2 separate regions of the Homo sapiens genome follow, and region 1 is linked to region 2. A link means that fine-mapping ties the variant in region 2 to the expression of a gene that starts in the linked region. Tissue or cell type: whole blood. Region 2 holds a variant in brackets; the other region holds the start of a gene. All regions are shown on one strand. Distances are from middle to middle.

Region 1 (8,107 bases), 110 kb after region 2:
GAGATTGGTGGGCACTTTAATGAGACCTCATACGGCTGCTTAGCCCAGAGCCCCAGCTACAGCACGTGCTCAGTAACTTAGGGAAGAGAGAAGGGGACTCAGGAAGGAGTGAGAGGGGCCCAGCAGTGCCTGTGGGTACCTGTTTGCTCAAAGGGAATCTGGGGTTGGGGAGGCAGGCAAAGCTGGGGAGAGAGCATGGGTCTTGGATGTCAGGAAGCCTGAAGCCTGACCTTGACTTGCCAAGTTTCTTCCTGCCCCCAGGCCTTAGTTTCTTCTTTGAAACATGGTGCTCCATCCCTATCTCAAAAGCAAGTTCTCAGATGCCTGTGGTGGGTGAAGATGTGGATGCTGAGGCTGTCTCTGGCCTGCTGTATTCAACATCTCCAACTACCTTTGGAGAAGAGTAAAAGCCTTTGGGAGTGGGGCAGAAGGAGAATGGAGGGGGATGGAGCCTGGAGCAAGAGGAGAAGCCTGGTCCAGTGACTTAAGCTGGGCAGCAAGGTCTCAGCCCTGGACAGCAGAAGATCATCCAGAGGGAGTCCAGCAGGAAGAGGTCTGGCCTGGGTTAGGGGACCTGGCTTCCGGCTCCATCTCCATCACATGCTGGGTAACAGGTCACCAGGCCTCAGTTTCCTTCCTGATATTCACAGTAGGACTGATGCTCCCACACTAGCAACAGCTTCCTCTGTGTTGGCTGGACATTGTGCATGGGGCTGTGCCTTTGTAAGTGATGTGGTAGAGGAGGTTTTGGGGAGAAAATAATCAGGGAGACTTCTCTGTGCTTCTGAACTCTCCCCAGTACAGGCTAGTTTTATGGGATAAAGCATAGCTATGGAGCTCAAGCTGCCATTCCTGATAAGGAGAAAGTGATCTAAGACCCAGGATAGGAGGCACCCAGGTCTCCTGCATGCCAGCCTGGGATGTGGAGAGTGTGTGGCCCCTCCATACCTGAGAAGGGAGCAGCCAGGAGGCAGAGAACCAGGGTAGGGCCACATCAATGGTGCCTGTGGCCGTGCCCAGCAGGTGCAGGTGTTTTCTTCTCCCATGTCAGTGCTGGTCTCTCAGGGGTGGCTGTGACCAGAAGTCACACATGGAGTGATTTTGAAATGGATCCCTGGTTTTACAGCTCCAGAGATGTGAAATGGGTGAATGATGGAGCTACACTCATGTGGCTCTTCAATGGCACAGTGAAAAAAGCAAGCAAGATGGAGCCAGATAGACCTGGGTTCAATGCCAGCAATGATTTAACCTGTGACCTGAGGCAGTAACTTCCCCTCTCTGAGCCTCAGTTTCCTCGAGGATTGGAGGGGCCCAATACTACTCACCACATGGCATTACTTTTAAGACCTAATAGGCTAACAACAAGGACTTTGCACATGGTGGCCCTGAACAAATATTTGTTTTGACCTGGCTTCCTAGCATCCCAGGAGGGGTGACCCTCTCCAATCCCCACCTCCCTAGTGAAGTTTCAAAGGACAGGTTTTTCTGGACGGGAAGGAAGAGTTTCTCTGGGCAGGAGACGGTTAAAAGCTGGGACTACGATTCCAGCCTGGGGCTGCCCCCTCCTGGCCAGCTGTCTGAACCCCTGAATTATAGATGTGCTTGCTCCTGGCCTGGCGAGCAAGAGCTAGTAGGTGCTGGGAGCCAGGCCTAGTCCAGGGTCACCTAAGGGTAGGGCCATTGGGCCAGACGCACCTCCTCACTCCACATGCAGACACACACACCGAGTCCCCTCCCAGTTCTGACTGTGCACCCACATTCACAGATATAACCTGTACACAAAGTCTATGCACAGACCACACATCTCCAAACCCCATCTACACAGCAGACACACACACAGCAAGCACACATCGAAATCACAAAGAAATCATCAGATGACACATACTGAGACATACTTAGACCTCCCCTCCCCATCCAGACACACGCAGGCAGGGTGGGCAGAGGCTCCCAACATAAAGATACAGCCACAGTCATAACTGTCATAATTAACACATATGGAGCACTTACTCTGTGCTAGGTATTGCTCTAAGCCCTTTCCAGAGAACAGTTTATTTAATTATTATGTAATAGAGATAGCTACAATTATTATACCCCCATTTTACAGATGAGGAAACTGAGGGAAGGAGAATTAAAATAAGATGCCTGAGGTCACACAGGTGTCCTGGCACAGCCTCAGGCACAGATACCCACCCCCTCGCTCTTGTCCCCCATTTACATAAACACATTCATTCAAACGCAGCATCCCCCAACCCCTGACCTGCCCGCACACACTCAGGGTGAGCGCTCTTTGGGGGACTGTTGACTAAAGACGCAAGAAATGGCCTATTGGCCAACGGGTGGTAAACTGTAACAAGAGCCGGTCCGGTGGCCCGGCGCGGTGGCTCACGCCTGTAATCCCAGCACTGTGGGAAGCCGAGGTGGGCGGATCACGAGGTCAGGAGTTCGAGACCAGCCTGACAAACATGGTGAAACCCGGTTTCTACTAAAAATACAAAAATTAGCGGGGCGTGGTGGCGCTCGCCTGCAATCTCAGCTACTCAGGAGGCTGAGGCAGGAGAATCGCTTGAACCCGGGAGGCGGAGGTTGCAGTGAGCCGAGATCGCACCATTACACTCCAGCCTGGGCGGCACAGCAAGAGTCTATCTCAAAAAAAAAAAAAAAAAAAAAAAAAAAAAAGCCGGACCGGTGAGAAGACTAGACCTCCTAAAGGTGGAGGCGGAGCTCAAAAGCCGGACGCTACTGGACGAGGCTTAAAGCGCTCGCCCCAGCGCGGGGCCGGTGAGGAACGTTCACCGTGGACCATGGTCGAATAATGTTAGCGTGCACTCGGGGCCTCGCCCTAGCCTTCTGCAAAGCCTCGGCCTGCGCCCTCGGCTGCATCCGTTTCGACGCCAACCAACCTCATGCTCTTAGTAGAACGGCAGTAGCGACCGCGCCCTCAGGCCCACAAGCCCGAAGGTCTGGGCAGGGTCTGGAATGGCGGTGGAGACACTTTATCCGCAGGCGTTTCACCTCGCGCCCCACCCAGGCGCACACCAAGTTCTTGGTACTCCTTTTAATGGGAAAACAAGAACAGACACCATGGTTGGATAAATGTTATTTATAATTCATGGGCCGGTCTTTGAACCCTTTCAAACAAAACCCACAGCGATTTCTTTGAAAGAATGCCTGGACTGTGCTCAGAGCTCTCAGATTTTCTCAGGACCAACGAGCCGCCGCCTCGCAGATACCACTGTAAATTACCCAGCGCCTTACGTTCGTTTCTGATTATTTGCATTGCAGTGGGTTTGTTAATGAAGGACAAGAGTTTAGAAAAATCTTTTATTTTGGAAGTTGGACACGCAATCGACCCCAGCAGTGTTCCTAAAAGGAGCTATGCCATTTGGATGGGGGAAAAATGAGGGGGCGGGGAAGTCCATGTTACATTTAAAACAACAACAGCAACAAATTAAAAGCAAAACAAAACAACAAAAAAAAGGAAGTGGAGCAGGAGGAGGAGGTGGTGGTGGAGGAGAGGGAGGAGGGGCAGCAGCAGCGGCAGCAGCAGCAAGGATGGAGTCAGGACCCGTCCCAGTCCCGGGTGAGCGCTTTTGGATCTGGGTTCTGGCTCAACCCACGTAATGCCCCAATCTAAAGTTTTCTACGTGTGTGTGGATAGGAAAGTCTAAATAGAGTTTATCAGAACCCAGGTGGTCATTCTCTACACTCTCTCTAGCTTGGACCCGAAGAACAAAGGCACATGAGAGGAGAAAGGTGACCAGCTGGACGATGACGGTCACGTCCAAACGGATCCCCCTTGTCCTCGGCTCTCTCGTCCTGAGAGTGGGTTTAATTTTTTTTTTTTTAATTTATATAAGAAGGGAGCTCTTAAAGGAGAGCCATCTCCACCCTCAGGTATCCATCACCCAGCTCCAGCGCGCCTGGGAAAACCGCCCCGAAAGTCCAAGAGGAAGCTCAGAGTTGTAACGGCCGCGGAGCCAGCTCGGCGGTGACGCAAGGTCCAGTCCAGATTGCCAGGCCCGGGGCATGAGAGAGGATCCTTGTAGGTTTCGGAGGTGGGGGGGCTGCACTCCATTGTTCACTCCGGGCCAATCAGGGTTGGCCCACTTCCTCCCAGCCAATCTCCCTTCACCCCCAGCCTCCAACCCAACCCACCCCGCCCATCAGCCCCTGGATCCCCATCACCTCCCCCGCATCCCCGGCAGTTCTGGGGAAGCTTCGTGACGCCACAGGTCCCGCCCCCAGCTCCGGCCCGGGGCTAGTGCGTGTTGACGTCATGCTGCGTGCGGGCCGGTGCGGAATCGCTCCTTCAACTCCGCGGGGCAGTAGGAGTTAGTTAGCAAAGAGCCGAGGCCGGGCGCGCGACCCTCGTCCTTCTGCCCCTGGCCGCACACTTTGCGCACATCTCTTTTTCTGCATGGTGGATATTATTTTTCATTATCCTTTTCTGGGTGCTATGGGTGATCATTCCAAGAGTAAGTATTTCTGTGTGTGTGTGGGGTGGGGTGTGTGTGTATGCTTAATATGCAAAATTTCTAATGCAGAAAAATGTTTAGTGGATTCTACAAGTGGCTTCTATTTGTCAGAATAGTTTAGGAGAGGAAAAACGAATGCATGTCTCCTGCAGGACTGCTTATCTTTGGGAATCCTGTTGTTTTATTTTATAAGTAAACACTATTTCTCAAGCCGGCTAGGATGACTTCGGGCTGCGAAATCTGCTTCTGTTTTGCGCAAAGGCAATTAGGTTTGATTTAGGGATGTGGGTTTTTTTTTTTTTGGTTGTTGTTTGTTTGCCTTTCGGTTTTTCAAAGCTAGGAAGCTTTCTTTCGCTTGCTCTGGGATATTTAAACTAAGAAATGTCTGAGAGGATGAGCGGGGACTGCCGAAAGACGATGTGTCTGTGTTGGGATAGGAGGCAGCCGCTGTGAGTGGGAGTGTGTGAGCGGAAATGCCAGGACAGCACCGTTAGGTGTTGATATCCAGGCGTCCGCAGTGCCTGTGTATTTACTCTCTTCTTAGTTTCGTGTTTGCGTTTAGTTTCAAGACACGTCGACAAAACGACTGTCATTAATGAATGTAATAACGAAATATTTGGGGTGGGGGACAGAAGAAACCTTCAGCAATCCACAAGATACTGGTTTTTCGTTTCCAATGCCCTGGACCTTTAGAGAGCTCATCATCTTTCCTTATGGTCGCAAGTCTTGAAAGAAAGAGCAAGAGAGCGAGCGGGTTGGGTTGGGGCTGGAGTAGCCGAGGCCGGCCTGGGTCCGGGCAGTCAGGCCTGACGCGGCCCCGCGCCCTTCCCCGGCAGAGAAGCCCGGGACGGCCATGTGCGTGGGCTGCGGGAGTCAGATCCACGACCAGTTTATCCTGCGGGTGTCGCCCGACCTCGAGTGGCACGCGGCCTGCCTCAAGTGTGCCGAGTGCAGCCAGTACCTGGACGAGACGTGCACGTGCTTCGTGAGAGACGGGAAGACCTACTGCAAGCGGGACTATGTCAGGTGAGGCCGGCGGGAACGCGGGCTGGGCCACCGCGCGCAGGGGCCGGGGCCGGGACTGGGGATGGCGGCCTGCCCGCGCGCCCCGGCCCTGCCCAGGGAGAAGGCCATCCGCATCCCGCACGGGTGCCGCAGCGCTCCCCCGGGCCCGGGAATGCCCGCAGGCGGGTCACCGCAGTCTCCTGGTGGCCACAAAGTGTCCTGGGCGCGCGCCGGAGCCGTAGCAGCCAGGGAGATGAGGGCGGCCGCAGGCCCAGCGCTGACACCGCCGCACCTTGGGCCCGCAGGCTGTTCGGCATCAAGTGCGCCAAGTGCCAGGTGGGCTTCAGCAGCAGCGACCTGGTGATGAGGGCGCGGGACAGCGTGTACCACATCGAGTGCTTCCGCTGCTCCGTGTGCAGCCGCCAGCTGCTGCCTGGGGACGAGTTCTCGCTGCGGGAGCACGAGCTGCTCTGCCGCGCCGACCACGGCCTCCTGCTCGAGCGCGCCGCGGCCGGCAGCCCGCGCAGCCCCGGCCCGCTTCCCGGCGCCCGCGGCCTGCATCTGCCCGGTAAGCGCGCCGGGGCCTGTGCCGGGGTGAGCGGGGTGTATGTGCGTGCGTGTGTGTAGGGGTACGCTTGTGTCCCTAACGAGAAGTTGTCAGTTGTGTGTGGTTCCGTCTGCCGGGATAGTGTTTTTCTGTATCAGTGCGGAACTGTGTGCTGGGAACAAGGCTGTGTGTATTCTCGTGTGCTCGGGAGAAACTGCGTGTGTATGAGTGTGTGAGCACGGAGAATTGTGCAGAATCGTGTTCTCCATGACCAGGAACATGCAGGGCACAGTGCTAGGAGCAGAAGAGTGGATGACAACAGGGAATCTTAAGTGGTGTCCGTCTTGGGGCTTGTATTAGGAATTTCTTGGAGGAATATGTGTTATTGTCAGAGGGTAAGGTTTGCCCAGGGGTATGTGTGTAAGTAACACAGCTCCAAACTGGGAGCTGGGCAGGAGCTTGGTCAGCCAGGAGCCAAGAACCCAACAAAGAGGGGTTTTTGCCATCTTGTTTTGAGGCCCAGTTTGATGAACAATTTAGCCAGGTTCTTCTGGGGGAGGGGGAGTATCAATGCATAGTGGACTGTCACTGGAATATTCTGGGTCCTAATCAGCAGCTGCCCAGAGATGGGGTCTGAGTGTATAATGGGCAGGTACGGCTGAACAGAAACAGAGGTGCCTCCACCCCAGGCAAGGCAGTTTCCCCCAGGTAGCCATAGGCCTGCAGCACAGATCCGTAGACCAGGCTGGGCCTCTGGGTGCTGTGTGGCCTTGCCCCGCTCCTCCCCTCTCTGGATCTTCACTTCCTCCCTATAGAAAGAGGAAACTGGGCTGGATGGGCTATTTGTAAATATTTGTCCAGACCTAGAAATTCGTAGAGGGGAACATAAACCGAAATGGTGCAGTACAGATCCACGGTATATATGGGTCGGGATCAAATGGAGATGTGAAATGGGAGCAAGCGGGTATTCAGTGCACCCCCATCTGGGATCTCGGAGAGGCTCCCCTTTGTTTGTTTCGGGCTTCAGGGTGCAGGCTCTGGAATCAGTCACTGTTTCCCCGGGATGGAGAGAACCTGGGGCCAAGCGAGGAGAGTGCCAGCGGCTGCTCAGCACCTTGGTCGGTGGGAGGCCACTGGGCTGGGGAACCTGGAGCCTTGAGGAAGGAGACAGGGGCCGAAGCCCAAGGGCGGGCAGGAAGGAACTGTTGCAAGCCCTGGAGGCCCGTCCATAACCGTGGATGAGTCTTCTACACATGTGGCCTGGCCCTGTCCAAATGGGCTCTGAAGGAGGGGAAGGGCCCTCGTAGGCCCCCGGCATATTCGCACCTCCCACCCAGTCCCCTGGGCAGCGCCTCGCCCTGGGTCCACGTCGGTCCCTTTCCCTCTCCAGAGTCCTGGGCAAGCCTCTTTCCTCTTCCTCTGAAACTCCGACTTCTTCCGGAGGGCTTCGCTCGTTCCGAGGGTCCTGCGACTGGAGGAGGCACATCCCTGAGCAGCCACTCCCTCCCCGCAGCGGCCTGTCGCCGAGCTCCCGCGCCCTGCTTGAGCTCGGGAGAGATCGCTGCGGGGCAGTCCGGCCCGGGAGCGAGAGAAAGAACGAAAATGCACAGCTCTCTCCGAGTAAGGCGAACAGATGGAGAGGAAGACGAACAATTAAACGAAACAAACAGAATAAAACAGAAACGAAATCGGGCCCCGGGGGGCTGGGCCACCCGGAGGTTGGGCTCGGGGCGGGTGGGTGGCGGCCCCTCGCTAACCTCTGGCCTCACCCTGTCCTGGCAGACGCTGGGTCGGGCCGGCAGCCCGCGTTGCGCCCGCACGTGCACAAGCAGACGGAGAAGACGACCCGCGTGCGGACTGTGCTGAACGAGAAGCAGCTGCACACTCTGCGGACCTGCTACGCCGCCAACCCGCGGCCCGACGCTCTCATGAAGGAGCAGCTGGTGGAGATGACCGGCCTGAGCCCGCGGGTCATCCGCGTCTGGTTCCAGAACAAGCGCTGCAAGGACAAGAAGAAATCCATTCTCATGAAGCAGCTGCAGCAGCAGCAGCACAGCGACAAGACGGTGAGCAGCCGCTG
Region 2 (8,107 bases):
AAAAAACAGGTGGTGCCCTATGCCCTATCACTGTGACTACAATTATAATATTTACCAGCACCTACTATGTACCTGGACAGAACAGGCAGGCTAATATTTGTCACAGACTCTATTAGTATTAGGTACAGTATAATCTCATTTAATCTTCATTACAACCTTTAAAGAGGTAGTGTAATATTTACATTACTTACAAGCAAGCTGATGTCCAGAGATTAAATAACTTAGCCAAGATAATTTAACTAGTATGTGGCCAAGGCAGAATTGGAATTAAAGCTCTTAATTACTATAACATATTATTTCTGAGGGAAAAACAAACTTGTCCTTTATAACTAATGATTGTTGAAGGGTCAAGCAAAACAATTAATATAAGAGAATAAAATGTTATGCATATTCATTTTTACTCCAGATACGGTTCTACTTGGTGAGCAAAATATCACCTAGGGAATTATTAGTCTAACAGCTGTATATACATGTTATACATGATACAATTTGCAATTTAAAATTTTCACACAAAAATTAGGCTAAAAAAGTCCTTTCTGTACGCTATTATTTGACTTCTATTTTCTTTAGATCATAAGCCAAAATAGGTAATGCTAATTAATTCTCACCCATAATTTGTATAATTAATTGTATTTCTTAATGTTATATAAAGATATTACCTTATATGTTTCTTAATGTTATATAAATATATTTTTTAAAATTATAATTTTAAAATATAATTACAATACATAAAATACAAAAAATAAAAATAAAATATTAAAAATATAAAATATATAACATTAAGAAATATAATTATACAAATATTGTATTTTTTATTTTTTAATCAAAAGTATTAAATATTTGATTTTTAAAATATTTTAAATATTTGATTTTTTAAAAACGAGATCGCCCCAGTAAGGAATATATTCACCAAACCACTTTGTCTGTGCTCTTGTGTCAGAATTACTACAGTATTCACCTACAATAAGCTCATTCTGATTTCAGCTGAGAAAACAACTTCATGCGTACTCTGTAGGTTCCTAGAGTCTGTCAAAGGTGCGATTTTTACTGCACCTTATCCAAGGTACAATAGTAGTGGTGAGCCACCCAGCTGTAGTACCTGCTGAGCCAGAGAGGCAGAGAAATGAGAGAGAAGGGGAACAGAAGCAGGACCCTGGCTTAGTTGTGCCCATAACCTGTGGATTGTCCCAAATCACATCTCTCTGGGACAGGCAACTTAAAAAGAATGCACCTGGCTTGTGTTACTCACATGGTAACAAAGAGGAGTCTGCCATATGTTTAATATTTTTATAATCTTTAGTTTTTTTCCCCCAAACTGAATTTTTTTTTTTTTTGAGACAGGGTCTTACTCTGCTGCCCAGGCTGAAGTGCAGTGGTGTAATCATGGCTCACTGAAGTCTCAATCTCCTGGGCCCACGTGAACCTCCTACCTCAGTCTCCCAAGTAGCTGGGACCACAGGCACACGTCACCAGACCCAGCTAATTTTTGTATTTTTTGTAGAGATGGGGTTTCACCATGTTGCTCAGGCTGGTCTCCTACTCCTGGACTCAAGTGATCCGCCTTTCCTCGGCCTTCCAAAGTACTGGGATTACAGGCATAAGCCATTGTGCCTGGCCTCCCAAACTGCATTTTTTAAGGAGTGATTAACTTCTCTACTTTTGTATTAATCAAATACATATATAACTGTACTTCAGAACTTTTTTTTTTTTTTTTTTTGAGACAGAGTCTTGCTCTGTTGCCTAGGCTGGAGTCCACTGGCACCATCTTGGCTCACTGTAACCTCTGCCTCCCAGGCTCAAGTGATTCTTGTGCCCCAGCCTCTCAAGTAGCTGGGATTACAGGCATGCATCACCATGCTCGGCTAATGTGTTTTTCACAGTTTTAGTAGAGACAGGGTTTCACCATCTTGCCCAGGCTGGTCTCAAACTCCTGAGCTCGGGTGATCCACCCGCCTCGGCCTCCCAAAGTGCTGGGATTGCAGGTGTGAGCCACCGCTCCTGGCCATGTACTTCAGAACTTCTAAGCTGTAGGAGATAGTCATTGCCTTAACACAATTCTAGCTAAAAGAACATAAACATGATATCTTGGTCTGAAGTCTCTCTCTAGTCCAATGTGGGCTTCCTAAAATACCAAAAGGAGCCTGAGAACCTGAAACTGGAAGTCAGCTGACTAGATGATTTTTAAGGCCTCGTTCCACTTCACTGTCTTAGGACTCTTTCTCACTGAGAAACCTCCGTGTCCACACACATGCATAGTCTCATGCCAAACCTTGGAGCTGCCCTTAATGCAGGAGCACAATGTGTGTGACCCCATTCTATCAATAATGACTACAAAGAAGCTCCTGCCCCAAGGCAGGTGTCCACTGGAAGAACACTGAAAATTTCCAACTGCTTAACAGTTTATCTTTTTATCATGAAAGCCCCCATGTGAGTTTTAATACATAGTACACAGGCAGACAGAAAAATGTAACAAAATTACTTACAAGTTTATTAAAATATTCTCTTGAGGAAAAAAGGCAACCACAGTAGACATCTACTTGCAAACATGGATGAGGTTCAGAAAGTATTTAATTTTGCTTTTAAATAAAAATAATATTTACCCCCTATTCACACCAATAGTAAGAACTGAATTCTTACTACGTGAACAAAGTTATCATTACACAGAGAAAAAAAAATTCTCTTTTTCATACCAGCCCCCCTTCCCACTGGAACATCTTAGTGGGAAAATGACTGGCATTACTGTTTGTTCTTACACACTTGGGCCAGGCAACATGAGCAGCTGACCTACCTGAATCCCAAATACCAAATACAGAGCTTCAGGGTTACTGAAGAGGGGTAATGTTTTTCCCAAGCCAAAATCTAAGCTCTTTGGCGGGGGCCTTCTGAGGGGAAGTATGCCCAACACTGAGCCAGAGCAAGAGCCCCATCCTAGTCTTTGCATGCAGTCTGAGCCATCACGGAGTAATCGGCTCAAGGGTCCTATTTCCATCCTTCACTGAGCATGAACATACTTCAAAGTACAAATGTACTCTCCAAGCACACTCACTAGGTTCCTCTAGATCATATGCAGTGCTGGTGAAGTCACAGAAATGGGCCAGTCCTCTTGCTGAGGGAACCACCTGTAGCTCTGTTCTCAGGCTGAAGCCTCTCCACTAAGGCCCATAGCCCCTCGCTGTGGTTCTACATGAGGGGTTCCTCACCCCAGCAAACCCACTTCTCCTAGGGTTGGATGCTATTTTCAGAGTGTCAATTCCTGCATAAGTGATTTCTGCATAAGATAACCTAGAAACGTGTAGGCAGACCCAGGAAAAAGAAGAGACCAGGCCACGCATGAGTCATGACCTTTAAATGTAGCCAAATGAGTATCAGGTGCTCATCACCTGTAATTCACTAATTAATATCATGAAAGTAATTTTTCTCATGGGAAGGTCAAATATGGAGGTGACGGCAAGAGAGAAGGAACACTCAAAAGTGAAGAGTGTGAGGAGTGAGAAATAAGTGCTCTCCCTACACTCGTCAGCTAAGGAAGGCCATTAACCCACAAACACAGCAAGCAGAGCATTCCTATTGAGACAGATAAGCTGGATATGGGTGCCTACTCTCCCCTGAAAAGCTCTAGCATTCTTGGCAAATCCCTGAATAAGGGGGTTTGATGTTAATTTCTTTAGGGTACCTGCCAAATATGATTCCAGGTTATAAATTACTTGAATCACTTCACATTGTGCATTAACTTAGCACATGAGATGCCAAAAACCATGTGGGTTTTTTTTGTTTTGTTTTGTTTTTGAGACAGAGTCTCTCACTCTGTCACCCAGGCTGGAGTGTAGTGGCACGATCTCTGCTCACTGCAAGCTCCGCCTCCTGGGTTCACACTATTCTCCTGCCTCAGCCTCCCGAGTAGCTGGGACTACAGGCGCCTGCCACCACGCCCAGCTAATTTTTTGTATTTTTTAGTAGAGACGGGGTTTCACTGTGTTAGCCAGGATGGTCTCGATCTCCTGACCTCATGATCCGCCC[G/A]CCTCCGCCTCCCAAAGTGCTGGGATTACAGGTGTGAGCCACCACGCCCGGCCGCCATGTGGATATTTTAAAGACAATTTGGACTCTTTCTTAAAAGGAAAGTTATAATGCTCTATATAAACAACACATATCTACTCTTAGAGCAACTTAACTTTAAGTAGGTCAAAATTGTGTACATATATTAACAGTATACATACAAACACAGACACACAAACACACAATGTTTTCTTTTAATAGCTTCATCCCTAACCATTTCTGAGAGTTTCTCGGATGACAATCTAGATAATAGCAATTTCTCTCAAGGCCAGCTTACCTTAAATAAATCTGCAACTATTCCATAATCTGCCACTTGGAAAATTGGAGCTTCTGGGTCTTTATTAATTGCCACAATTGTCTGTGAAATAAAAACAAAGAGTTTGACTTTTACCAAGAAAACATTTCACACAGACTGATAGTTCTATTTTAACTTCCAATATATTAATATTCTTAAAATGTCTACCAAATAAGATTTGAGGCATCTGTGTCAACACTGTAAATTTATTAGAAATTTCCAGGTTGGAATGTAATAAAATTCTCTCTTACCCACATCTAGCCCATCTCAGTATTAAAGAGTTTAAAATCATTATTTTTTAAAAGTTCTTCTTTTGACTTACAAAAAAAATATTTGATTTTAGGTGAAAAAGTAACAAATCTATACCCAAATCCACAGCCTTTGTAGTGCAAATTATTTTGTCCTTCATTTATTATTTTAAAATTATTATTCTGGAGGACAGGCACAGTGGCTCATACCTGTAATCCCAGCACTTTGGGAGGCCAAGACGGGTGAATCACCTGAGGTCAGGAGTTCGAGACTAGCCTGGCCAACAGGGTAAAACCTGTCTCTACTAAAAATACAAACATTAGCCAGGCATGGTGGCATGTGCCTGTAATCCCAACTACTTGGGAGACTGAGGCAGGAGACTCACTTGAACCTGGGAGGCAGAGGTTGCAGTGAGCAGAGATCACGCCACTGCACTCCAGCAGTGAGACTCTGTCTCAACAAAAATAAAAATAAATAAATAGGCCGGGCACGGTGGCTCACGCCTGTAATCCCAGCACTTTGAGAGGCCGAGGTGGGCAGATCACAAGGTCAGGAGATCAAGACCATCCTGGCTAACACGGTGAAACCCCGTCTCTACTAAAAAACACAAAAAATTAGCCGGGCGTGGTGGCGGGCATCTGTAGTCCAAGCTACTCGGGAGGCTGAGGCAGGAGAATGGCGTGAACCCAGGAGGCGGAGGTTGCAGTGAGCCGAGATCGCGCCACTGCATTCCAGCCTGGGCGACAGAGTGAGACTCCGTCTCAAAAATAAATAAATAAATAAAATAAAATACAATAGAATAAAATAAAACAATTATTCTGGGATATTCTAACAATATGAAAGCTAAAGTATCTTGTCAGCCTGTTAGTAAGGGACGTTAAACAGCTTTAAGTCCTTATGTACATAGCAAATAGATTAATAAAAGAAGCAAATTACTTATATCTCTTATAAAAGCTGTCAAACATTTCTCTTATTTGCTATAAAAATATTCTTAAATGCAGGCCAGGCATGGTAACTCATACCTATAATCCCAGCACTTTGGGAGGTGGAAGTGGGAGGATCACTTCAGCCCAGGCGTTCAAGACCAGCCTGCGCAACACAGGGAGACCCCATCTCTACAATAAAAAATAAAAGCTTATGCCTGTAATCCCAGCACTTTGAGAGGCTGAGGCAGGCGGATCACTTGAGGTCAGGAGTTCGAGACCAGCCTGGCCAATATGGTGAAACCCCACCTCTACTAAACACACAAAAATTAGCCAGGTGTGGTGGTGCGCACCTGTACTCCCAGCTGTTTGGGAGGCTCAGACAGGAGAATCGCTCAACTCTGGGAGGTGGAGGTTGCAGTGAGCCAAGATTGTGCACCGTATGTTAGCATGGGTGACAGAGTGAGACTCTGTCTCAAAAAAAAAAAAAGGAAAAGCTATCATTCAAATCATTCTTTTATTAATATCAGATAGTTTATCAGTACAAATAGTTTGGTATTCCCCACAGATGCTTCTAACACCACTGCAGTTAGACTCTAATGTAGTATTATTTTAATAGATTGTGGACTAAAAATAATTCAAATCTCTAGAAGTAAAATTAAGTTTCTACCTACCTGGCATTGTATGTTGTGAAAACAGCTGGTATTAAAAAATACATTAAGTATTTTGATGTAGCCTGACTTAAAATACAGGCTACAGGATATCCAACATCTGTGTATTTCCCTTAGAGGGGTTCCTCAGAGAGATGTGCAGAAGATGCCAGAATGTCTAAGATTGGAACATGGTATAGTCCAGGTAACTGCTAATCCAGAGAAACATGCTACACACATTAAGATGCATAGTCAGAGACAATAAACAAGTTTCAAACGTGAGCCTCAAATCCAAAGGCACAAGAACAAACATTCTGAATTGCAGGTGTTGATTTGCATTGGCGTGTTTCTCTTTTGGGAATGTGTAACCTGCTTCACGGCGATAAGCAGAGATTTGTTTAGTTATTGATGGTAAATTATTCTTCTAGAGGCCACTTAGTCAGACATCTGGGAGTTTAATCATCCGAAAGCTTTTTCATTATACTATATAACAATTGTTATTATCATTATTACTTTGAGACAGGGTCTCATTGTGTTGCTCAGGCTGGAGTGCAGTGGTACAATCAGCTCACAGAAGCCTTGATCTCCTGGGCTCAAGTGATCCTCCCACCTCAGCCTCCTGAGTAGCTGGGACCACAGGGGTGTACCACCATGCTCAGATAATTCTTTCATTTTTTGGAGAGATGGGGTTCTCACTGTGTTGCCCAGGCCACTCTCCAACTCCTGGACTCAAGTGATCCTCCTGCCTTGGCCTCCCAAAGCGCTGGGATTACAGTGCCTTGGGATTACAGTGCCACTATGCCTGCCTTAAAAGTTATTTTTAAAGAGAGAGCATATAACTGTGGGCAAGGAACCACTACAGTATTTAACAAAAAAGATGTGGGGCTGGTTATTGTTCTTCAGATTATTAAAATAATATTCCTAAATAATCAATTGTAAAGAACTATGATAAAGTCTTGCTTGTATCCAAAGCTCTCTCAATAGCTCCTCACAAGCTCAAGTTCTTCCTCCTTACTAAGCTTTGAAATGCATAGATTGTATTCAACCATATTATTATTATTACTTTTTTTTTTTTTTTTTTTTTTAGATGGAGTCTCGTTCTGTCACCCTGGCTGGACTGCAGTGGCGCGATCTCGGCTCACTGCAGCCTCCGCCTCCTGGATTCACGCCATTCTTCTGCCTCAGCCTCCCAAGTAGCTGGGACCACAGGCGCCCGCCACCATGCCCAGCTAATTTTTTGTATTTTTAGTAGAGATGGGGTTTCATCGTGTTAGCCAGGATGGTCTCGATCTCCTGACCTCAGGTGATCTGCCCGCCTCGGCCTCCCAAAGTGCTGGGATTGCACGTGGCCTCAACCATATTACTGTGTATTAGTTCAGAAAGTGCTTTCATTAGATTCATTTGATTTAACAATCAAATCTTGAATTCCTTCAACTAAACCAGGATTCTAATTAAAATTGCAGCTTGCAGGGAATGCAACTGTCAGATTTAAACCATTCTAATATCCCATTTTAGAACTAAAGACTGTCTCCTATGCAGATAATGGGGCTATGACAACACAGGACGACACAGACAACAGGATAAGACAGTGACAACAAGGGCTATATCTTTTTAAGCATTCCCAGCTTCTAGTACAAGGAATGGTCTTAATAAACATCTGTTGACTAGATGGAGATACAAAGTCTTGGCTGACCCCCAACACCAGTCTCCTTACTTCAACTGTTCCCTATTTGCTCTGACGTACACTACCTAGTGTCTCTCCCACAATCCAGCCCTGTTGGCATGGGGTGAGAATTTTCACTGGTATCTTCTTGACAGGCAGAATCTTTTATTTTTAGAGAAGCAGAATTCTAGCTATGTCTGAACTGGTCTGGCTAAAAATATACTTTAAGGCTGCTGGTGTTGGAGTTTCTTTCTTTTATTTATTTATTTTTTCT

Evidence for each region. PIP is the estimated chance that this variant, and not a neighbour inherited with it, causes the effect.
Region 1: ISL2 starts here. The variant in region 2 is fine-mapped to the expression of ISL2 in whole blood (INTERVAL, PIP above 0.99).

The regions. Positions count from the first base shown.
Region 1 is chr15:76,332,467-76,340,573 of GRCh38, forward strand. ISL2 (ISL LIM homeobox 2) reads left to right here and starts at 4,307. Exons shown (of 6, transcript NM_145805.3): 1 at 4,307-4,475; 2 at 5,312-5,501; 3 at 5,786-6,048; 4 at 7,810-8,093. The coding sequence starts at 4,418. RefSeq lists enhancers at 4,042-4,336, 4,148-4,647, 4,341-4,390, 4,816-5,627, 7,175-7,244 and 2 more.
Region 2 is chr15:76,221,519-76,229,625 of GRCh38, forward strand. ETFA (electron transfer flavoprotein subunit alpha) reads right to left here. Exons shown (of 12, transcript NM_000126.4): 11 at 4,331-4,411. Among named protein-coding and RNA genes, the nearest start is that of ETFA, 86 kb to the right of the region's middle. The variant G/A (reference allele first, on the strand shown) is at 4,018.